Regions from separate parts of the Homo sapiens genome. Here region 2 is linked to region 1. The links come from fine-mapping of genetic effects on gene expression. A gene starts in region 1. The other region holds a variant in brackets. All regions are shown on one strand. Distances are from middle to middle.

Region 1 (12,813 bases):
GGTAGTTTTTTTAAAAAGTAAATATAAATTTACCATGGAACCTAGCAAATGTATTCCTAAAAATTTATTCCGGATGAGCAAAGACTTATCTTCATACAAAAATCTGTACATGAATGTTCATAGCACCTCTACTTGCATTAGCAGAGAACTGAAAACAACCCAGACATTCTTTGATGGATAAATTGGTAAACTGTGGCACCTCTGTAGCATAAAATACTACTCAGCAATAAAAAGGAATAAACTATTGATACACACAACCAACTTGGATGAACCTCAAAGAAATTATACTGAATGATAATAGCCAACCTCAAAAGGATAGCTACTGTATGATTTAATTTATGCAGCAGTCGTAACCTAATTATAGAGATGGAGAACAAATTAGTGGTTGCCAGCAAAGGAGGAGAACAGGCATCTTCAAAAGAGAAAATTGACACACACGAAAACTGACTAAAAATCATTGGAAATCAAAGAAATGCAAATTTAGACAATGGTGAGATATTAATTTGCATCTAGCATACAAAAAATTTTGGTCTCACAATACCAAGTGTGGGTGAGCTTTAAGGTAGCTTCTGCCTAGAAATAGAAAAGCCCAATTTTTCTTTCTTCTTTTTTTTTTTTTTTTGAGATGGAGTTTCACTCTGTCACCCAGGCTGGAGTGCAGTGGCGTGATCTCTGCTAACTGCAACCTCCGCCTCCAGGGTTCAAGTGATTCTCCTGCCTCAGCCTCCTGAGTAGCTGGGATTACATGTGTGCGCCACCACACCTGGCTAATTTTTTGTGTATTTTTAAGGAGAGACGGGGTTTCATCATGTTGGTCAGGGTGGTCTCAAATTCCTGACCTCGTGATCTGCCTGCCTCAGCTTCCCAAAGTGCTGGGATTATAGGCGTGAGCCACCCTGCCCGGCCTGATTTTTCTAATTCTATATGAGTTTATAGAACCTAAGTCTCACTACACAATGCATGATAACTATTTTTAATCAAATAGTAAATAATTACACAACTATACACTTTGAATAAATTGGATACATAATTTAAATTCTACTTAACAAATTATCAGTCACCAAAGGTTACATTTACAATATATCTAAATATATAGTGGATGTATTTTTTCTTTTTTAATTACAAGCTAATAATTTTAGCAGTTGAACAGTTGAAAATTAAAATATTTTTATTGCACTTCTACATGTTGGCTGGGTTATAATGATAAATGGTAAGAAAAAGAAACAGAATTATATTTAATAGAAGCACCTATAAGATTAGATATTTATTCAGGAAAAACCAGAAGTCGTCCAACTGATTGATCATATGGTTGAAAGAGACATGAAGAGCAAAAGCTAGGACTTGGGAGTGTACACAAATGGATAGCTGAATGTGCTAATAGAAATCAGGATATAGACTTGTAATCGCAACTCCCAACAAGTTAGGGAATAAATGTATTGTCTTGGCCTTTCATGAAAGAAGCAGGTGATTTAAACTGCCTTGCCAGTAACCGGAATAAATGTTTGCTTTCATAGGCAACAGAAGAAAACTTTATAAGTGCAAAGAAATGAAACAGCTAATAGAAGTAAAACTTTACAGGCACCAAAGCTCTAAAATCCCATGCCATGTTAAATGTTAAATGACTAATAGTACTAATAGTTCTATGCTGTTTGGAAGAAATACACCTTTACTATTCCTAAATCCTTCCTAAGAGTAGTAGATCATACTACTCCTTCCTAGGAGTAGTAGTTTTGGGCTAAAATTATCCCTGGGCTCTCAGTAATGCCAATTGATGTCATCACTTGGACAGTGTCAGGAAACTGAAGGAAATAGTTTCTGCTTTTGGTCTGTGTAAACTATTTTTCAAAAGCCTGGGGTATTCTGTTCTTTCCCAGAGAGGGAAAGGAAAGGAATTTCAGAACGAGGATGCTGATATACTTTAGAAAGCTGCTACAGGTTACAGGCGCCTCTCTCGCTTGATAGTAAGGTATACCTACATGTGTAAGTGGGAGAAAAGAGCTAGTCAAGGAGAAACATTGGCTTCTGGTGCCACATTGAAAATTGCAGGTCAAGTTAATGACTAAGTCCATTTGAGCTAGAGCTAACCAGCAAGGGTTTTTCCACGTTTTTCTTTTGGCTCAAACTTGGAGCAATTTTGACCCAAAAGACGGAGAAGAAGCGGGAGAATGCTCAAGGTGAGAAAGAAAGGTCCCTTTTTGTGAGGTTTGGGCTTCAGGTACCTTTGTTATGAACTTGAGCAGGAGTTATACTCTGACGTGTTGCCCTGCAGGATAAAACCACTGAAGGGAAGGTCACTGTGAAAAGGTAAGCCACAGACTGGGAGAAGGTATTCGCAACACATATCACCAAACACGAATAAATGGCCAGAATATATGAAGAATTCCTACAAATCAGTAAGAAAAAGACCAACTAATCTTTAAAGTGGGCAAAGATTCACTGGTTCCTTTGGAGGAGAAGAAAAAAAGGCATGTTTGGCCCAGGCCTGCTGGAAAATGCTGGCAAGCATGAGTGCAGAGGTCCAAGTGTCTGCACCAATGCCACAGAACTGGAGTAGTGCCATGCCCAAGACCTGGAGAGCACATGGGAGATGTAGCTCTGTGCAGGAATAAGTACTGGCTCTCAAAGCCAGGGCTGGCCTGGCCACTACACGGCAGAGAGGCAGGGCACTCTTCCTGAACCCCAACTCAGTATTTTCTTCAAGGCTACTACTACAGGAACACTATTAAGAAGATCTAAATGATGATAAACTAGGGAAGTACTAACATAGATGTGGCTTGGCCTTGTTCCTGACTCAGATAATCTGACTTCTGTCAATGTTATAGGAATTCTACCTGCTCAGTTTCTTAATAGTTAAGGTTAGATCAAACACGTTCCAGAGGTCAGAACTCAGCACTCTAAACCATTGACGCAGGGTTTGGAGATGTGATCTGTCGAACCACCTAACCTTCTGAATCATATTCCAAACCCAATCATACTCCACACCCAAAAGATTACGGGGAGAAATATAAAAGTTAATGCATGAAAAGTGTCTTCTTAAATCACCAACACTCATCTTCCCAAGACAAAACTTTATTTGAAGCATCAAGCAATATACTGAAAGAAGTGTCATGCTCAAGTAATGTTCTTATTTCCATAATTGTACATCTGATACTCTCTGCTCTCTTAAAAAAGACTGCATAGTGAGCAAAGATGAGTAGCACATATGCTTTTATACATAACCCTATCTATATGGTGCTTAAGAAAGTCTCCTTTTAATTTCATTCTTCCTTCCTTAAAAAGCATGTTGGTTTTATCTGGGAAAACTAAAACAAACTAGTTCTTCCACTTAGGATGCAGTTTCTCCCAAGTTATTTATGAAATAACACAGCTGCCTTTTTCTTTAAAGGGGTTCTTGTCTTCTGGAATTCCCTTTACTAGAGGATCCTCTCCAGAACGTTCTTCAATATAGTTCTTTATTTCTTCAGAACATTTAGACACCTTAAGTATAGAAAAAAAAGAGAATACATTAGGTTAGGGTTGTTTAAACTTTGTCCCTACGCCTTAATGAAATAAGTATAATTGAATACAATAAGTTTTTAAACATTTTTTTACATTTACATATATATGTGCATGTGTGTGTGTATATATTATATATATAATACATATATAAAATCTGGGCTCTGCACTCTAATATTTTTATTCTATTACTATACCTATGATGCAACCTATGTAAAATATATTTCTTACTGTTGGTCGTTGGTCAAATTAAAAAATGTTTGAAAGTCACTGCATTAAATAAATCATCTCCAGCAGTTTTTTTCCATTGTGTCTCATATGATTTCCTTCCTCTGCTAAAATACAATTATGCCATGTCTACAATATTTTAGGAACTGAAATATACTCTTATTTTAATTTTCCATGCTAGTGAGCAGGTGCAGTAGTAGATAATCCCCAAATGTTTTGGGGTGTGTAATGCCACGATTCTCACTTATGGGTGTGTGCCATGTTCTGAAATTTCACGAAATGATAGAAGCTTTGGAAAAAGCCTGATTCTGGAAAGATTGGAATTGTCCAAATATCGCACTCTGTGTTGCTCCTCAGAATTTCTTCCTGCTGCATGAGGGCAATGATCATAATAAAAGACTTATCTGAGACTTATTAGGCTTATCTGAGAATAAATTTTTTTCTGAGATGGAGAAAAAATTGAATAGTGTCTTCAAAAAGTCTATTCTTAAAAGAAGAGTTTCTTCAAAAAGTCTATCTATCCTTAAAAGACAGGTTGCAAGAATGAATTAAAAAAAGAATAAAAACAAAAGAAAAGAAATTAGGGTTTTAATGAAGGCCTGTATTGCTAGTAAGAAATTTAAAGTAAAAATTACAGAAGTACCAGCAAATTTAATTTAATTTAATTATTTATTTCTTTTTGAGATGGAGTCTTGCTCTATTGCCCAGGCTGGAGTGCAGTGGCAGGATCTCGGCTCACTGCAAGCTCCGCCTCCCGGATTCTAGCCATTCTCCTGCCTCAGCCTCCCAAGTAGCTGGGACTACAGGCGCCCACCACCACGCCTGGCTAATTTTTTGTATTTTTAGTAGAGACGGGGTTTCACCACGTTAGCCAGCATGGTCTTGATCTCCTGACCTCGTGATCCGCCCGCCTTGGCCTCCCAAAGTGCTGGGATTACAGGCGTGGGACACCGCGCCAGGCCGCACCAGCAAATTTAAATGGAGACCTATGAAAACTGGGCAAATGTTCCCATTGAATTAGTAATCTAAATTAGTAACCTCAAACTGTTTTAACGGTTACTACTAAAACATGTTTGCATGTGTATCCCAAAATGAATATAATTTTTAACTACAAATAAGTACAGACACTGCTTTGTTAATACATCATGCAAAATTATAAAACATAAACTGGAAATTATAAATGGGTGAGGTTTAAAACTAAACAGAAATAGCAATGTTAACATTTTACTTCCACACCCCAAATGATTATCCTCTGCAAATCAGTGTGGAAGCCTCTGACCTCAAATTGAAAACTAGGTGATGTAGTTGTGTGACTTAAAATCTGGCAAAATAAAATCTTTCAAATACAATTCTTTCAGGTAACATTTGCTCTCGTTTGTTGACATTCAGAGTGCATGCATTTTAAGTGAATTTTTAGAGTTGATAATGCACGTGTCATAATTTAGGGTCTGTCGTCCCAGGTTAATTTCTCAGCAAGATACATGCTCCCTACATTGAATCTTTTCTTACAAGGTTTTTTCATTAGGTTTCAGAAGAGGTCTGTAACCTCCAAATGTGAGTAATTGCTCCTCTGATACATTTCCTTCCATAATCAAGAGGACATGTTTGATAAACATTTAACTACAGCCAGAATGCAACTTGCAAGTTTTGTCTGGGCCTAAGTTAAGGACTGAACACGTAGCCCAGATGTTAACTATTTATTGACTGAATAATGGACTGGGAATGAGAAGAAGAATGTTTTAGTACCTGCCCTATCACTATCTATCTCTGTGGTCTTAAATGTGGAGCTAGTTAGCCTTTGTGGGACTCAAGTTTTTTTTAATCCTTAAAGTGAGGGAGATGAATGATCTCTAAACATTCCAATGCTTGCCTAGCAATAATAATGTATAATTCCAAGTGTATAATCAAATGTCTTAATATTATTGTTGAGATTTAGATGCCTCTTTCTGTATTTCCTAAGGTTACATATATCCAAAGTTTTTTCTCCCTCTGGCATACACTTGAGGTTTCTGGAGGTGGGAAGTTGATGCCACAGGCCGTGTCCTAAAGGGTCAGGCTGGCTAGCAGGGAGAAACTGCTAATGAATGATACAGTCAATTTTTACATAGTCGGTTGCATCCACATCACTTAACTTAAAACTCTGAGTAAGTAGAAGACGCTTGTCTTTTTTCCTAAGTTCTACACAGTGATACCAAATATTAAGATATTAGAACCTTGCATAGACAATGCTGTACTTCAGCATATGAAACTCTGTTTAATATGTAACTCCTAAGGTTTATTGTGTGAACATATCTAAGTGGCCAGCACTTGCTGTACTGGGAACTTCGCCATCCATAAAATGGGTCCCTTAAGGTTTCAAGAAGCGTGCTTATTGATTGGGTAGTGTAACTTCCTTTTTTTCCCCTTTAAACGCGTTGGTGTTTTTAAAGCTACAAACCCTTAACATGATAGAAGGGACAGCTCATTATAAAAGCTAGGAAGAGCCGGGATTTGGATGTGAAAGGTTAAATTTGAGAAAAGAAATATGTAAAAAGTAAAACACAAAAATGCCTGCATCTTCTAATCATCACTCAACAGTGAAGACTCTTGCCCTTAACAGATTTATTATAACTAGAACAGGAAGGCAAGTGAGCATATTATAACGCTTCATTTCCATTGTTTTTCTTAATTTTTTCTAGTGCTAAACCATAATAAATAAGATCAGTTCAAAATTTTCTTGCTGAAGAGGAAAGGTTAATTATCTTTAAACAATATCTATTCAAAGACCTTTCCTAGTCTACAGGATGCCTGATTGAGTTAAAACAGGAAGAGGGATTAGTGTCTGAAGGAAGGTCTTGATGACCAGTAAGAAATTGAAGTAAAACTTATAAAACTCCCGAGACGTTTCAGTGGAGAATATTGAATACTGGGTCATATGTTCTCAATGAAATGGTAATCTCTATCAATAGTCTCTAAAACTTTAAAATTGTGATCACTAAAAAAATTTTTCATATGCACCACAGTGTATGTATAATTATTTATAAATAAGTACAGATACTACTGTATTAATCGCATACTAATAAAACATAAAGTGAAAATTATAAAGGGATGAGATTTACAAATAAATATAGAAATTCTAATATTTTGTTCCCAAATTTCGGTGGACTGTTCTTTGCATATCACTGAAGGCCACTGGTGAAATTCAAAATTAAATAATGTACTTGTAAGACTTTAAAATACGGTTTTAGAAAATTTCTTTCAAATATCATCCTTTCTAGTAGTGTAAAAGATCAAAGAACCAAGTAGCTATCCGCTTTTTTCCTACAAGTGAGTTTTGAAAAACAGCTGTCTAATGGAAAGCAAGATTTCTTGTCTATTTTCCCCTTCCTAGGCATCTTAAAAGTTAGGACATTTGGCCTTAAATTACTTATCAGATCCTTGCTCCCTCCTCTACCTCCTAGGATTTCCCCACATCAGCTGGCAGTCCCCAGGCACTGCCAAAGGGTGGTGAGAAGAGAAGCTACAAAAAGGGGGAAAAATAAGCTAAACTATTTGCTTTACTGTTACTAAGCAGGAAAAATCGGACCCTGCTTCATTTCAGAGAAGGAAATATTCCGGAACAGCCAACTTACTTGTTGTCTCTGCAACTTCACTTCTTTGCGAAGCTGCTCAACTTCCATTTTCAGTTTTTCCTTCTCTGGCAAATCTTCGATGTGAAGGGCAGGCATTTTCGCCCCAGAACCGGGCTCGGGCTAGCTCTGGCAGCGGAGCCGCTGGAAGAGCGGCGAAGCTCGGCGCGTCCCGAAACAACTGAAGGCCTGGCCCGCCGCCCACCCGCGCAGGATGTGACTGCAGCCCTGCTGCGGTCCCCAGCTCCCCGAGGGCTTGGCTTTCTCCGGGACGCTTGTCACGCCAGCGTGCCCCAGCTTCCTAGGACCTGAGAACTCTGCCTTTTCTCAAGTCCCTGCAACCCAGGAGGCCTGCCCGGGTGCTAGATGAGGGTTAAGTTTGAGACTGGGTCCAAGCAGCTTCCCGCTGCTCAATCGCCCAGCAGGGATGCTGGCCACGGACAGGCCCTGACTCAGGACCTGCCACGCCCGCGGGGGACGGCTGGGCTGGGGCTGCAGGACTGGGAACAGCAGAAGTTTTACTTTGTGTTCTCCGCGCACCCCCGCTCCTTTTTTTTTTTCCGTTTCCAAGTCACATCCGGGTTTTGTTTGTGAAGCTAGGAAAAGGAGTACACTACCCAGCAGGAAATAACTACCCTTCACCTCTCAAAGAGTTTTAAAAATATGCTAGATATAGCTTTTCCCTAATTACATACATAGGTTGTTGCAAAAGTAATTACTTTTCTCTAATTACATATATAGGTTGGTGCAATTAGTTTTGCACCAACGTAATAAATGCATAGTGGAGAATGCGGACGCTTAAGAAAAGGCTGAAAAGAAAATGAAGCTTAGCCCTAATCCCAGAAATACCCACCAGTGTTCTGCTCATTTGTGTCCATCCGGCTTGTTCGAGGCCTAATATGGGTTTATACATTTTGGGCGAGGAGGGGGCAACAGGGTGTGAATATCGTTTACAAGTTGCAAGAACATTTTCTATTATTAAATAATCATCTGCATCCTCAACAGCAGCAGAGTTTGTATTTTTTTTATTTTTCCGGGGGAATGTTATGTAGAGGGGTGCATCAAAGGATGATATAAGAGAAGACAGAAGCAGGAATCTTAGAGTTCTTAACCGAAAGCCTTTCTCCACTCCCCAACCCTAAGTTTTGGGTGACACTTGACACCAAGGATTTTGAATTCCTGGCTCCTGAACCTTCCTGGATGTAGGCAGTGGATTCATTTAGTATTAGTTTCTCCACTTTCTGGCAAGCACTATTTATCTAGCTGTTGCTCTGGAAAGCCAGGAAAAGTGTCCGATGTGAAAAAAGTTTACATGCAATAAAACTTTCCCTTTAACTGTAACTAAAGTCTTGTTGATGGTGGTCAAAAGAGTAGAAGAAAAATCAAACATGAATGTAAGAAACCTTCCCTAGCAGTTGGATATTTCTCTTTCTTTCCAGAGATAACCTCCTGCCTCACAGAGTCAAAGGCAAGTGAAATATTAACTTAATATTTCAGAGTAGCTGACCCAAGACACCCATGACCATTCCCTGTTTAGGAAGCAGGAGTTTTTGTTCGTTCCTAGTTTCTTACCACGCTCCGCTCAACCTCAATGAATAAATTAGAATGAAAAAAACAATGAACCACTTAATGAATACTCCTGGCGTGTAGTTGCAGCTCTGCCACAGGCCATCACTGAAGAAGTCATTTAATTTTTCTTAGTTTTGGTTTTCTAATTTGTAAAATGTATAGTAAGGCAGGGAAGTAGTGAATCAGCTAAGCTATGTTGTGTCTCTAATTGTGTTGGTATGTCTATATATGATAAATCATTTTCACAAAGAAAATGTTTAAGAGCTTCACTTTCAATATTTGAAATACCAGGGTTTTCCAAGCTCAGAGTAGTTAGAGCATCTACTGAAGTTTACTTGTAAATAAGCAGGGAGACTAGACAAATGTCCATATCTGTCTTGTGCACTAATTCATTTTTAAAATTTTCTATTACTTAAATTTAAAAGGTTGGTCAAAAATACCTTAAATTAGTGAAAGTAATCAACGTGAATGTGGCCTAAATTAAATAGGTTCAGCACCTAAGTTAAATAAATTGGTTAAATAAATTATTGTGTTTTTGTTCTTTTTTTTGTTTTTTTGTTTTTTTGTTTTTTTTTTTTTGAGACGGAGTCTCGCTCTGTCGCCCAGGCTGGAGTGACTGGCACGATCTCCGCTCACTGCAAGCTCCGCCTCCCGGGTTCACGCCATTCTCCCGCCTGAGCCTCCGGAGGAGCTGGGACTACAGGCGCCCGCTACCACGCCTGACTAATTTTTTGTTAATGTGTGTTTGTTCTAAGTCATAAAAATATAATTATTTTGGCTTTGAAGTTTCTTTCCCATGAAATCATCTAGTTGCTTAGAGGGATAAATACTTATAAGCCCATATTGGTTCTTTAACTTTTCCCATCGTATTATGAGACGTATTAGAAACAAAATACTTGTTAGTCTTTTTTATTGTTATTAAATAATTCATATTCTAATATCTTAAGTAAATTGATTAAACTGAAGTGAATTGCAAAATGTTGAAATTGCATGATCACACAGGATTCTGAAAAAGGTTTTATTGTTGCTGGTTTCCTGTTTGTTTGTTTGTTTGTTTGAGACGGGGTCTTGCTCTGTCACCCAGGCTGGAGTGCAGTGGCGCGATCTCGGCTCTCTGCAAGCTACGCCTCCTGGGTTCACGTTATTCTCCTGCCTCAGCCTCCCAAGTAGCTGGGACTACAGGCGCCCACCACCACGCCCAGCTAATTTTTTTGTATTTTTAGTAGGGACGGGGTTTCGCTGTGTTAGCCAGGATGGTCTCGATCTGCTGACCTCGTGATCCGCCCGCCTCGGCCTCCCAAAGTGCTGGGATTACAGGCGTGAGCCACCGCGCCTGGCCCTGTTTGGTTTTAAATAGTAAAATGATGAGAATATTTTTTTTTAAACAAAAGGATGTGTAGTCTTCTATGCCTAGACACCGAATTTACCTCCCAGAGAAGAACCATGTTAAGCAATTTCTCATGTATACTTGCAGAAATAGTTTATCAGCAATATTCAAAAATTTTGAATAAATAAATTTTAAAATTTGTTTAGCTGTGTCCAAATGTTTTGTTAGGTTTTTACTTATATTTTACATAGTACCCCGGTAAAATTTATTTTACAAGTAGTATGAGTAGAAACCATTCTTTAGTAAAAATGACAGGTGCAACCAGCAATGAACTTTGATTAATTAGCCCACTGTCGTTTCACAAATGTTTTATAGAAATTAGTTAATAAAAATAAAAGTAACCATTTTCACTTTTAAATTATAAAAGAGTAACAACCATGAAATTTTTACTTTGGTATGCAAAAATAGGAAAAACAAGGTTTTGACAATTTTTGTGATTTGTTATGTTGTTAAAAATCTATATAAAGAAAAATAAAACATTGAAGGCAGTTAAACTGGAATTGAGCTAATACTAACTTGAACTCAAAAAAGATCAGGATTCTGGTCTTATTTTATCTTGTGATTTTTGCAAGAAACACATTATTTCTGCTTTTTTATTTCGTGTAAGTAAACTAGGTTACCTTTCAAAGTCTGCTCTTCTAAAATTTATAGAGTGACTTTGAGAGGCCGATACAGGAGGATCACTTGAGACCAAAGGTTCAGGAGTTTGAGACCAGCCTAGGCAACATACCGAGACCCCGGTCTCTACAAAAAAATAAATAAATATAAATAAATAAATAAATAAATTTAAAAAGTGCATAGTAACTGTTTTGACCATTGAAATTATGGTTTCTTTAAAGAAAGTACACTTCAGACGCTCTTGGTTCATTTGATATTTGTTTTAATCTGTTAAAACAATCATGAGGCAATTTTCAGGAGCTCATTTGTTTCCTGTAACTACCTACCTAAGATTCCTTTTCTTTTTTTTTTTTTTTTCTTGGGCAGGGGAAGGAGTTTAACTCTTGTTGCCCAGGCTGGAGTGCAATGGCGCGATCTCTGCTCACTGCAACCTCCGCCTTCCGGGTTCAAGTGATTCTGCTGCCTCAGCCTCCCGAGTAGCTGGGATTACAGGCGTGTGTCACCACAGCCAGCTAATTTTGTTTTTCTTTTTTTCTTTTCTTTTTTAGTAGAGACGGGGTTTCACCATGTTGGCCAGGCTGGTCTCAAACTCCTGATCTCAGGTAATCCTCCCACCTAGGACTCCCAAAGTGCTGGGATTACAGGCGTGAGCCACTGCACCCAGCCCTAAGATTCCTTTTCTAGATGAAGAGAATGCCAAGTCAAAGGATGATCTGTGTCTGATGCTCTGAGTATCTTAGCAACTACTTATAATTCAGGATATCAAAATGATTTCTCTGGCTGGGAGTGGTGGCTCTCACCTGTAATCCCAGCACTTTGGGAGGCTGAGGCAGGAGGCTCACATGAGGTCAAGAGTTCGAGACCAGCCTGGCCAGAATGATGAAATCCCTTCTCTACTGAAAAAAAAAAAAAAAAAAATAGCCAGGTGTGGTGGCATGAAATTGCTTGAACCCAGGAGGCAGAGATTGCAGTGAGCCAAGATCGTACCACTGCACTCCAGCCTGGGCGAGAGAGTAAGACTCCATCTCAAAAAAATAAAATAAAATAAAATACAAATAAAAATAAATGATTTCTCTTACCAATTTTGTTTCTATATTACTTTAACTCCCATCATATATAACTGATCATTCTCATTACTTAGTTTACTATTTTCCTCATGTAAACACATTATTGAGGCATTTAGGAAGTTTGATCCAATATAAACTTTTATAAGCACCACTCTTGCCTGCTTTTAAAGTCAATTACATTGTCCAGACAATTTGTTAGTTGATATGACACTTTTCAAAGATGAACAGTGCTTCTGACTTGGGAAATCTCCAATGTAGTACTGAAATTAAAACAACCGTAGAAATTATAATGAGAAAAAGTAAAGTAACGTTAAATGACTTAAGAGACACACAAAATACTCTTGAGGTAGAATGGGAGAGATAGTCTCATAAGAAGAGTAGGATTTCAAAAGGCTGAAATGGGGTGGAGTGGAGGGAGATCTCAGGTGGAGGGATCAGTATGACCAAATTCCAGGTGGTGGGAAAATGTCCACGGGAAGTATAATAATAGAGGACATTTGTTAGGCTTCTTTCTATGTACCCGTTTCTGATCTAAGAGATTATAAGTATTCAGATAATCTAGCCTAATCACTAATTTTATATATAAAAAAAAACAGATTCAAAAAGTTCACGTCATTTGTCCAAGTTCTCAATGACAAGGTGGAAGAGTCAGGGTTTTAATTTTGAATTGTTGGGCTGCAAACTTTGTCTCCAATGGTAAACTGAAAGTTAGAGATGTTGGTTAGGACCATCTTCTACAGGTTACTGAATGCCATAGCATGTACTTACTTTGTATTTATTTTAATCAGAGAAAGGGAGATATACTGAACACTTCACTAAATAAATACTAACTTGCAGGTGG
Region 2 (12,813 bases), 140 kb before region 1:
TGTCAACAGTATACAAATCTTATCAGAGGCCTCACAATATACCTGGAAATTGTGTGGCCTCTGAGAATTTGCATAGTGTCCTCTGAAGTGTGACAAGAGTATTTAAAGGGTATTAGTTCTGCAGAAATCTAACACTGTTAAAAAAAAAAAAGAAGGAAATATGAGGACAGGCAGAAACATTTTTCCTGTAAAATAGTTTTTAAGGTCCCAATTTCTTTCTAGTCTATATATTTAAAATTTAAACTACCTGAACTTTCCAAAAATAAATTCACATAAAGTATAATTTCATGGATGAAGGAGTTAAGTGCCCAATAGAAGCTGCCCCTATGATTTCTTTTGTTAATGAACATGGCTTGTCATGATGACAGGTTATTATAATCATGAAAAATAGTAGATTTATAAGATATCTGTGAACGTTTTCTTTGGTTTAAGGTGAAATCAAAGTCTTCTGTGAAGTTCACAAAATGGACATCAGGAAAAATCACTAGTACCTAGATGCCCTTCATCAATATTTATTCTTGAATAGAAGTTAAACATTTTAAAATGGAAAGCAATATATCTTCTATCTTATTCTTAAACCCAAAGGGGACACAGCTAGGAGAGGTGTTCAAATCACTATTCAAAATCAGAAAGGGTCTGAAGACCTGCTGTGCCAGGCTAATCTTTTTATTGCTGGAAATTAAGGAGAGACTGGGGAAATCTGGGTTTGACACCTGGTAGTATGTGTTATTCAGTGCTCTGGGCAGCAGCTGTGTACGAACCATTATAGAAGAATGCTAGTATTTCAATAATGAGTAAGACCATGTTTACTGGGCACAATATGGGAGAGAAGTGGTCATAGCATCAATAACAACATTCTTCATTCGTCCCTCTTGGGAGTAAAGCAAAATGTAGAGATTGTGCAAGGTTGAAGCTTCTCATTCCCAGTCCTCAGCATTTTGTTTTCTCCTTGAAACTCCTGAGAGTGGAGGGCCTGGAAGATGCTCCTGGCTCGGTAGGTTTATGAGAGGGTGCTGATCTTGGAGCTGCTTTCTACGGGTTGTGCTGGTGCTCTGCCCACTGCAGGTCCCGGGAACACTGAGTTATGGCAGCCAATTCTGATGATGATAAATGATCACAGCACTTGGCCTTCAAGAAGAGACCAGAGCAACCAAACAGAAATGCATGTGTCTGAGCAGTTAGACTAATTCAGTTACAACTGCTGCCACTTTTGGTTTGCAAAAGGAGCTAAGAAATGTTATAGGCAAGCTAGAACTTGAATGGAAATGTTGATCTGGTTTCCTCATTCATAGGAAGAGCATCATGCAACTGAAGGACATTTCTCCATTATGACTAAACCAGGTGGATAATAACATCTATTTTTCAGTTTACAGACACATGTTGTTTTTACAATGCAACAAGTTAGATATTATTTAACAGTTAACCAAGTAGAACGTGGATGCAGACAAGCCTGGTGGTCATTGAGTTATTCAGGGCTTCTATTCATTCTAAGATGATTTTTGCTATACATGCTACTAGAATTCATTTTTCAGAGATCATACTCAACCTTTCTTTTTTTCTGATTTGATGGTTTGTGCTGTTACAAAATAAAAAATAGTGGTACCTTACCATTTGTAATTTTAAAAATTCGTATGAAAGATTATTAAATATAAATTACTTATAATTTGAGGGAAAGAGGGTTATCTTTGAGCTGGAGAGAAGAGCATATCTTTCAAGGAAAAGCTAAGTACCATTTATGTAGGAAAGTAATTTATATAGAAAAGATATCAACAATCATGTTTGGAGGGCATGGTAGATATATCCAAAACAATTTGTTTATTCTCTATCATCTGAAGAAATATTAACTAAAGTCCTTGGCTATTCTTTGATTATACTGAATGAAATAGCAGCTGCATTTGACCAGGAGTTAAGTATTTCAGACAGCATTATCTAAGTTTTTACAGCATGAGCTGAATAGTAGTGAATGAAGATGAATTTACTAAAAGTTTCTCTCCTAGGCAGGATAGAACTTGCTTGTTAGGCAGAAAAATTGTAGCAAATAGTAACAAATTGAAGAACACAGCTCTAGGGATTAAGGCAGTCAACGAAGAGATGGATCTTTGTTCTCGCTGACTTTTCTCTTAGGTTGTCACTTGCAGCTAGCTCTGTGCTGAACTGGACCAGACGATGCCTGTAGGGATGGAACCAAGTCATCCTGCTTAGAAAACCAGTCTCAGAGGTGGCTACATCTCTGCTTTCATAGTGGTTTTTAGTCCACCATCCTTGACCACACTAGGTCTTGTTGCTGCACGGCTTGTTTGCTGAATAGAGTATTTCATACACAACAATGTGTGGTGCTCTCTGGCCCCATCACAAAGTTGCCTTATATGCCTAGATGTCAACTGGAATCAGAAAGTCAGAAAAGACATCTTGAACAGGCTCTGTCTAGCACAGGAGTTCTCAGGAGGCATGAAAGGGCACACTCATGCTTATTTTTCTGCGACAGGGTTCTGGCTAATATACTCATCCATCATTTTCTTTTTCTGTGCACAGAATGAGGAGATACCTTTTTATTTGGTAAAGTCTATAATATTGAAAAGTTGTCACAGAGCACGGGCCCATCTGACAGTGAATCAATGGTGATTATGAAAGCACCTTAGCCATCTTATCTGACTATATGGTTAGGAATAAGAACATTTGATTCCTTGACCAGAAATTACCACCAACTCCAAAAATAGACATAAAGGATACACAGTTCTCCTAACAAGCAAAACATAGGTCTCTTGATTCTTCTTCTGATTTTTCATTCAGCTTCACAGTGATTTTAATTACTTCAGAGCACTGACCAATTACTTCAGAGCCCTGACCAAGTGATTTTAATTCCTTTAGAGCACTGACCAAGACAGCCAAACACTTAGAAGAAAACATAACTAAATGACAGGCCGTGAAAATAATAAGACATTTTTGAGGGATGTAGCAAAAACTAAACTGTAATAAAAGTGTCTGAAGAAGCAGAGCCTAGTAATTAAATGCAAAATGAGTGAAGCAAAAGCAAAAAGAGATTTTGGGTCATCATTTCTGACTTAAGAATGATGGATAACCAGTCACCCACCAGTAGTAGGCTGGTTGTTCACCCCCAAATCTGCCCCCCACCCCAACACCACTACCCACATCCTAAAACCTGGAGCCTGTGAATATTACTTTATTGGCCAAAAAGGACTTTGAAGATGTGGCAAAGGATCCTGAAATAGGAAGATTATCCTGCATTATCCTGGTGAGCCCTAAATGCAGTCATACGTGTCTTATAAAAGGGATGCAAATGCCAGAGAAGAGGAGAAAGCGTTATGACTATGGAGGAGGAGATGGGAATGATACGACCACAAGTCAAGGAATGCCAGCAGCCAGCAGAATCTGTTAGACACAAGGGACAGATTCTGTCCGAGAGCCTCCAGAGGGTGCTGCCAACACCTTGATTTCAGCCGCCAAATACTGATTTTGAGTTTCTGGCCTCCAGAACTGTGGGAGAAAAAATTTCTATTGTTTTAAGACACCAAGTTTTGATAATTTGGTATAGCAATCTCAGGAAACTAATGGTTTCCTTATACAAACCATTCTTTTTCCTTTATAGAAACCAAACCATTTCCTTTCATTCTGTTATCTGTTACACCATCAATGAATCAGCCAAAATAGGCAATAGGCACTACAGATAACACAGTCAGCAGGCGTTTTTTTTTTTTTTCCTGGTTTATGATAATCTTCATAAAAGACCTGCCAGACACCACTCAAGAAATTTCCAAATGGCTTTCAATCTTTTGGTCTCTGTTCCTTCTGGTTTTTTTTTTTTTTTTTTTTCCAGAGTATTAACTTCATTTAGCAGTTACAGCTGTTGACCTGAAAGTCCTTATCAGCAGCATAGCAGATGAGTGAGAACAAGAGTTATGGGTCCTGAATCTATAGGGAAGCCAAATCAAACACAGCTAGAAAAATGCCTCCACTGTGAGTAAAGACAACATATCTTCTTTCACATGTTGTACTAAGGATCAGGAGAGCTGAAATCTCATGTTGATTTCTGATGATTACCTTTGTCTTCTTGAGCAAATGACTTAGTTTCTCTAGGTCTTAGGGTCCTCATCTGTAAAATGAATCAATAAGATACACTGTGAAATTCCTTGAACCCTTAACATTCTATGAATTTATCCAGCCCTGAGTTGAAATTAAAATTTATAACAAGCTCAGCTTTATGGACAGAGTTTGTGGTCACCTCTATGGGTATCAGATATCTCATCATCCTAATCACAAATACCAGAAATTTCACCCATAGAAATGACACAGAGAGAAAGAAAGAGAATATATGTATATATATTCTTCTGTTCATTTAAAAACTTCTGGGTAAAATGACGTAACACATTAGAGTAAATTAACTTATCAATCTTTACTATAGATGTTTTCATTCTGTTATTGTTATAGACACATTACACTAGAACTATTAGCTTATATGTCTGTCTATCCCACTAAACAACAACCTTTCTGAGAGAAGGGACTAGATCTTATATACCACTGAATCCTCATGACCAAGTACTTAAATGCTGGTACAAAGCAAGTGCTTAGTAAATATTTGTTGTATAGATGCATGGCCAGCTGGGTGACTTCTCTCCCATGATAGGATATCAGAAGAGAAGTGGGCAGTAGAATGGCTGAGAAGGTCCCAGGAAGGGGAGCACAAAAACCAAAAACCAAAAACATCATCTACATCTCTTAGCTGTGATGGACAATACAGTTCCCAAATCACCTATCCCAGACTTTTCTCATAGCTTAAAACCTTCATCATGTTTCCTTGGAGAGAAAATTGGGTGCTCTTCATCAGAGGTTTGGTTTCTTTTTAAAACATTCTTTATCTCTCTGAAGCACCATTAGACTGTTAATTGAAATAAAAGAGACTTAATTTGTAACTGGGACTTGTGAAGTGGTAATTAGAAACATATGCTATATTGCATTTGAATGCTTTCCTTATTATTAGCATGTCTATTGATTCTTTTTAAACCACTCCGTTCAGTTGAATTTCAGTAGATGAATTTCAGGTATTTTTCCATTGAAAATGACAGTGAAGAAAATTGCCAAGCAATGAGACATTAAGCAAAGAAATGAGTATTTGGCTGGGCTATTTTTCATGATGTTTGCTATTTTTAAAATAATTAATACAGCTTGTAAGGAAAAAACTATGGTGAGTTATGCCCCACTCTACCTGCAAAATTAGTCTAAAAACACAATGTTATCAAGAGTGGGACTGAACTTGATTTGTAATAGATTACTCTTTAACACTTATGGCTTAAAAAAAATCAGAGAGTTCTTAATTTATAGCATCTTTAGGAAAGGGTGCTGATACTAAATTAAAAATATTCCACTCAGTTAGGTGACTCTGTGTTTAAAATCTCTTCTGTTACTAGGAACCAAGATATTTACAATGTTTTGTTTCTTTTTAGGCTGACTTGGGTACTAATATTGAGAGATATGGGACCTTTTTCCACATCCTTCTCAGACAAGCCATTCAAATCACTACAGTTATACTGTAAGGTACTTTCTATTACACTCTGGTACATTGTTATCTATAAAATATATACTCAAATAAATGAGTGACAAATACTCATCTTCATTACATAATTAAACTGGACATACTTTAGCTAATAAATAAGATTTCTCTTCGAAAACTAACTTTCTATCTCTGTTAAATCTAATCCCTGAGAAAGTTGGACCCTTAGCAACTGGTCTGTGGGTGCAAATAAGATCAAATCTAAACTACTCCTTCCTCCGCAGTCCCTGGCCCCCTTTTCCTTGTATTAGATGTCTTCGTTCACTGCCCAGAACTTCTGTTTTACCTCTAGTCTCCATGTGCCTCTTCCTGAATCATCTTCATAGTTCTCTGCTCTTCACCCTTCAATTGCTTTCTCTCTCCTTGCCTGTTTCTTAGGAAATGATATCACTCTCTGGCTTCACCAACCACAAACTAGAGTGTGTCTGATTAGTAGCAGACACTAGAGTAGTCTGCTACTAGTTAAGATCTGGCTCATTATGAAATGATTATTCCACAAGATCTATATCAATAGTGAAAATAATACACTTTTAAAACCCTTATCATTGGGCTGAGTTTTTGAACATCAGCCAGCG[A/T]TAGCAGAATGTGAACATAGCTGCATGCAGAGTTAGATGAAGAGTGGCATGCAGTTCCTGAGTTCTCTTTATCCAAGTCACCATTTTTGGATGAGGTCTCAAAAGAATTGGGAGATCCTGGACAAAGTTCCCTACGGAACTGAGATTCTCTGAGGAGAGTTCTCATAATCAGAATCATAGGGGAATTTATGACATTATCATTCACATTTACTCCTTCACTAAACCCCTCCTCACCATCCCCACTCACTTCAAAACAAAACAACCACTAGGCGTGATCTCCCCAAACAGTGTAACAATGTTGTCTTTCAAGACTTAGTTTCTGTCACAGGATGGAAAGTGTCATTGTGGTGCTGACAAGGACACACTTTCCCTGGAAGACACACAGAAGAAATAGAAGAATATAGTGGCTTGGCTCTGGGAATTCAGAATTCAGAAGGATTCCTTTTCCTCCAGAGTAAACCAAGAGCAAATCAAATTGCTTGGTGTCCCTTCAGCTCTCTCATTTTCTTTTCGCATATTTGAAGTGCTTACCTGGCCTTGCTTCTAAATTCCACCGCTGTTCCAGATTCGCTGGATTACTTCCTGTTTGGTTGTTCGGTGTTATCTTCCTTTATACAAATCAGTAGTCTGAAAGTCATAAGCATAGTTTAAAAAATAAAAGAGCAGACATAACTAAATGAGACAGTGAGACTTGTGCAAATTTAATATCCAGGTCAAACTGAATTCACCCAACAAAAGGAACAATAATTTATTTTGTTGTACCCAGTTACCTCCAAACAGATTTTGATTATGTTGATTGCTGAGGATACATGACGAAGAAAAACAGCTGGAACTGGCGGTCATAAATCTTAGGTTCTTGTTCTGGGTTTGCTGCTAACAGGCTTTGTGACCACAGGCAAATCACTTAACTTCTCCGTGCCTTTTCTATGTGTTACCCCATCTGTAAAACATAAATAACAGTGCTTGCCCTAACCTGACTTCTATGACCCCTTTAATACAGCTCATGTTACTAAAATAATTAATCCAGCTTGTGAGGAAAAAAATATGTTGAGTTATGCCCCACTCTACCCGCAAAATTAATCTAAAAACACAAAATATATAAACTAAATAAAAAATAAGATGTACCATAGTGAGTTAGCCTAATCCGACTCTCTTCCTTGTTCCTTTATATCAGGATGAAGTCACAGAGTGACTTTAGGTAACTAACCTAAAGTTACCTAAGATTTAGGTAACTAACCTGACACTGTGAAAGTCTTTCTAAAAGGCTGTCTTATTTAGGAAGAAGCTGAAATTAAAAAGACAAACAAATGGCTCTTTCTCTCAGGCGTCACTTTCCTTGGGAGTAAAATTAACCCAGCATCCTAACCACTGACTGATGTGGCTATGGTATTACGTGTTAGTGAGAGGAGTGGGAGGGACACACAGGAAATGAAGAGGATGACTATGATTTGAGCTGTTTGCAGAGTCAGTCTCCTTTGGGGTCAATGGTGGGGGCAGCATGTAATAAATCTTCTGAGATGGGTGCCTGAGACCTTGTTACTGGAAAGGACTGTTTGACTAGCCACCATTCTTTCCCCTCTCCCCGCTACCCCCGAGATGGAGTCTTGCTCTGTCACCCAGGCTGGAGTGCAGTGGCGCAGTCCCAGCACACTGCAACCTCCATCTCCCAGGTTCAAGCAATTCTCCTGCCTCAGCCTCCTGAGTTGCTGGGATTACAGGCGCCCACCATCCTGCCCGGCTAATTTTTGTATTTTTAGTAGAGACGGGGTTTCACTATGCTGGCCAGGCTGCTCTCAAACTCCTAACCTCGTGATCCACCCATTTCGGCTTCCCAAAGTGCTGTGATTACAGGCGTGAGCCACCGCACCTGGCCCATTGTTTTATATGTTACACATTCACTTTCATTGAAGAGTATGGAAATTATTTATGTCCTCTCCCTTGTGTATGTGTCAGACTTGCCAAAGGAAGTGCCTGGATGTTCTTAATTTCTAAAAGGTTTTAGAAAGGAAAAGGCAGAAAGCTTAGTCAATAAAGGCTCACAAAAGACAGGCTTGGGATCCCACTGCATGTCTTTCCCCACTAAAAATATAAATGGGCGTATCTGATCCGTAGGTGCTCTAATTTCTAAATACCCAACCTACAGTCTGCAACTTAGTCAAAGATAAGTATGATTTGCTAAATTATATACTTAAAACCAGCCAAAGTGGCAACGTTTTCCCTGTCAGATTAAGAAAGTTTAATTAACTTGTCTGTTACGTAGATAGCAAGGATTGGGGTCAGAATTTGAATGCAGCTCTCTCTGACAGTCAAACTGGCAAAGCTAGTAAGTTTTTCACTTCTCCACCCCGAGGTGATAGCTGTGGATCACATCCCTAGTACTTATTTTAGTCTGAAAGGGTTTGAAGTGATTTAGAAGTGGAAGGAGGAGTACCTCATTTCCGATTGCATTTGTGAACTTTCTTCTCACGCACAGATTGTGAAACCCTTGCTGCTGTTGTCATTACTGACACTCATTTGCAACATATGGGTTCACTGGGCTTTCACTGATGGAGCTCTGGCTGCTTTTGTTGACTGGTAGGTGGAAATTCGTCATGGGGACCCTTGGAAAGTGAGCAAGGAAAATACCATGCAGGAAAATGTTGTCACCTGAAAAAGTTACTCAATTTACAGAGTATGAATGTGCTTTCTTAAGAACTCCCGGGTCTTAAAGAAGTTTTTAATACTTTTACTCAACACACACTTATATAGCCCTTACTATGGGCTGACAGTGTTAGTGCTTAACAATTATTAACTCATCCAATTTTCATGAAAACTTGATGGGGCAAATACTATTATCATCTCCGTTTTGTAGATGAGAGAGCTGCGGCATACAGAGATTTAGTAATTTTTGCCCAAAGTCACAAATACAATTTATGGCAAATCTAGGATTCAAATCCAGGTATTTCTGCTCTAAACTCCATGCTCTTGAGCATTCTGCTATACTGCTTCCAGAAGACAGTTGGTGCAGATGTGATGTAAACAAAAATTCAGTAAAGTGAATACTAAGTAGTATGAGCCTGAATATTTTCTCCTTTGGTTTTTAGGTTTTTATTAGCTTCCCATGTAAAAATATCTTTAAAGCATTGAAGTTAGGAGTTTGACATCTAACATACACTTATTTTAAAAGAAATGGAAATAATTTTCAATTAGTGAGGACGCCTTAGAGGACTTGGCCCTCCATGTGTACTTGCTGGGACCAACTCTACTTCACTGTGCACTGGAGGATGGAGGCAGCCCATTGCTTGTTCATGTGTATCCAGGAGTAGCACGTGCTTGGGATATGGTGGGCCTTCAAGGTTGAATGAATGAATGCCAAACCTTATCCTGCCTTCTGGTGATGGGGGCTTGACTCAAGTGCTGAGAGAAGACATTTTCTCCTTCCTACCTTCAGTGGACCTTGAGATACATTCCTTAGTCTCCCTGAAGAGATTCCATTCTCTGTTCCCTTGGGACTTTTCTATTTCAGCCCTACTTCTTTAAGCCTTTTCCTTCTTGTTAAATCTTCTGTTTTCACCACTGTTTTATTGTTTAATATATATCTTAGTTAACTAATATTTATTGAGCAATTATTACACGCAAACTCTCTATTGATGGTTTCATTTTAACCATCATAAAATTGTGGCAAACTCTTAAGTCAATGCAACTTCTGTCATGTGCAAACAACTGCATGACCTTCATGTGTCCCATGAACCTCCTAATAGGAGGCTGCATCAGTTTCCTGTGGCTGCTGTAACAAATTACATCCAACTTGGCATAACAAACACAGATTTATTTTCTTACATTTCCAGAGGCCAGAAGTCTGAAATCAGTTGCACTAGGCTAAAATGAAGGTACAGGCGGGTCTGGAGACTCTGAGGGGTGAATCCTTTCCTCGGCTTTTCTGGCTTCTGGGGCCACCCACAATCCTTGACTTATGACCCTATCCTTACATTACTCCAACCTCTTGCTTTTTTTAGTCACATCCCCTCCTTCCTCTTCTGTGGTGAAATCTTCTTCTGCCTCCATCTTTTAAGGAAACTTGTGATTACTTGTAGGGCCCACCTGGCTAATTCAGGCTAACATCCCAGTCTCAAGATCCTTAACTTAGGCACACCTTCAAAGTCTCTTTTGCCATATAAGGCAATTGTAATGGTTAGTTTTTGTGTTAACTTGACTGGGCCATGGATTGCCAAGATATCTGGCTAAACATTATCCTGGGTATGTCGGTGAGGGTTTTTCAAGATGAGAATAACATATGAATCGGTAGACCAAGTAAAGCAGACTGCCCTCTCCGGTGTGAGTGGGTCTCAACCAATCCCTCGAGAGCCTGAATAGAATAAAAGGTGCAGTAAGGGAGAATTCAATCTCTTTGCCTGACTGTCTTCAAGCTGGGACATTGGTCTTTTCCTCCCTTCAGACTCAGATTGGAACTTACACCATTGACTCTCCTCTCTCAGGCCATTGCATTTGGACTGGAACAATACCATCAGCATTCCTAGCTTTCTAGCTTGCCAAATATAGAGTGCAGGGCTCCATGGCTCCATAACTGTGTAAACCAATTCCTTCTAAAAAAAATCTCTTTCTATATGTGGTGTATGTGTGGCGGGGGGTGGAGGGGTGGCAGGGGGGCGGCGGATTGTATCTCCTCTTTGTTCTTGTTTCCTGGAGAACCCAGACTAACATAACATCCACAGGTTCTGGTATATGAACATTTTTGGGGGCCATTCTTCAGCATACCTAGATGCTCAAAGACATTTATACAGTATTTCTAAGAATCAGATAATCATTTTTATGTTCATCAGACAAACCAAAAACACAAAATACCAAATATGTTTCTTCTTTTTAGTAAAACAGTCTGAATGCAACTAAGCACAGTCATAATTGAATTTTATAAGGAGCCATTCTCTCTCTTCAGCACCATCCCAAAACACTTTTAAAAATTATTGTGTGACTACTATTTTCTTTTTCAACCAAACTTTTGGAATCACTCAAATTCTTATAAAACTTAAAAATCCCTTATTGCAACAAATGGTCTCTTGACTCTTTGCTCATTTCTTAGAGAGTATGGTAGCTTTAGAACATGTCCATAAATTGTTTAACAATTCCCCACAAGAAAGAGGCAAACTTTTCTTCCTGTCCCTCCCCTTGCACCTGGGTGGACATTTGTGATGATTTCAACAAATAGAATATGGTATGTGTGATGCCAAATGATTTCAAAACGTAAGTTGCAAAAGGCCATGAAGATTTTGTCATTTCCTCTTGGGTAATTCACTTTCAAGACCTCAGCTGCCATTTTAAAAGGGTGACTAACTCGAAGCTGCTATGCATGAGTGATCATGTGGAGAGATCCCATTGAAATAGAAAGAAATACCTGAGGAGCTGCAGAATTCCAGCCTCTAGCTGTCATGTCTCCCCAGTGTTCACGTCTTCCAGATGAGGCCTCAGACATTCCAGCAACTCCAGCTGGAGTTTGCAAACTGCAGCCTGCAGGCCAAATCTGGTTCACTGCCTATTTTTGTAAATAAAGTTTTATTGGAACACAGCCATGCTCTTTTCTTGTATGCATGGTCTATGGCAGTGTGCTATAATCGACTATTTGAATAATTTGACAGTGACCATTGGCCCTGCAAAGCCTAAGAATATTTGCTATCTGGGCCTGTACACGTTTGCCAATACCTACTCTAGAGTGTAGACACATTCTCCTCACTGTGCCCATCTAAATTTCTGAAAATCTAATAGCATAATAAATGCTTGTTTTATACAAGTTAGTTTTAGAGTAATTTGTTATGCAGCATTGGATAGCTGATACAGAGTTAGGGTGATATCACTAGGACATTTCTAGGAGTCTTTTTGTTTTTGAAGTATATTCAAGCTCACTGAATATTACTGATTTTGAAGAACATCTCTGTTAGCTATCACCTTATTTCTCTGCTTCCTTCACTGAAAACTCCTGTGAAGGGTGTATTTGCTATTTTTCTCAGCTTATTTCAACCAGGTTTTTGGCCGTTATCATTACCATTTCACTACAATAACTATTATCAGTGTCATCAAGGGCACTTGCCAAAGCCAATGTGTTCAGCTTGCTGAAACTCTGTGGAGTTTTCTTTTTTTTTTTTTCTTTAAATCTTGGTTGATGATTATTTCTTCCTGGTCTCCTTAGTTGACCACTCTTTCCTTTCTTCTGTGAGTTGCCAAGATCCCACACCTCTCTGAGTTTTTATGTTACATGACTCAGCATGTTTTGCCCATTTGTCTGTGACCCTTCTTCTTCTGTTAAGCTTCTAGTTGTTAAATTACTTCAGGGAGATTGCTTCTGAGTCCTCAACTTTTCTTCATCTACTTTTTTCTCCTCTTTTCCTCAGAGAGTAGATCCAGCTCTGTGGCCATAAATGGCACTCCTGTATTGGGTGCATATATATATTTAGGATAGTTAGCTCTTCTTGTTGCATTGATCCCTTTACCATTATGTAATGCCCTTATTTGTCTTTTCTTGATCTTTGTTGGCTTAAAGTCTTTTTTATCAGAGACTAAGATTGGAACCCCTGCTTTTCTTTGCTTTCCATTTGCTTGGTAAATCTTCCTCCATCCCTTTATTTTGAGCCTATGTGTGTCTTTGCATGTTAGATGGGTCTCCTGAATACAGCACACCAATGG

What was found. PIP is the estimated chance that this variant, and not a neighbour inherited with it, causes the effect.
Region 2: its variant is the best candidate, but not a certain one, in a credible set for the expression of GNG11 in monocytes after LPS (Fairfax 2014, PIP 0.85).

What each region holds. Positions count from the first base shown.
Region 1 is chr7:93,916,755-93,929,567 of GRCh38, reverse strand. It overlaps GNG11 (G protein subunit gamma 11), which reads right to left and starts at 7,833. Exons shown (of 2, transcript NM_004126.4): 1 at 7,335-7,833; 2 at 958-3,477. The coding sequence starts at 7,430. The coding sequence ends at 3,352. All of the region lies in intron 1 of LOC105375402 (a long non-coding RNA gene), which reads left to right. RefSeq lists an enhancer at 7,596-8,231.
Region 2 is chr7:94,055,724-94,068,536 of GRCh38, reverse strand. It overlaps LOC130890646 (a long non-coding RNA gene), which reads right to left. Exons shown (of 4, transcript NR_186703.1): 2 at 6,912-7,081; 3 at 6,673-6,768; 4 at 783-4,111. Among named protein-coding and RNA genes, the nearest start is that of BET1, 58 kb to the right of the region's middle. RefSeq lists an enhancer at 7,039-8,238. The variant A/T (reference allele first, on the strand shown) is at 6,142.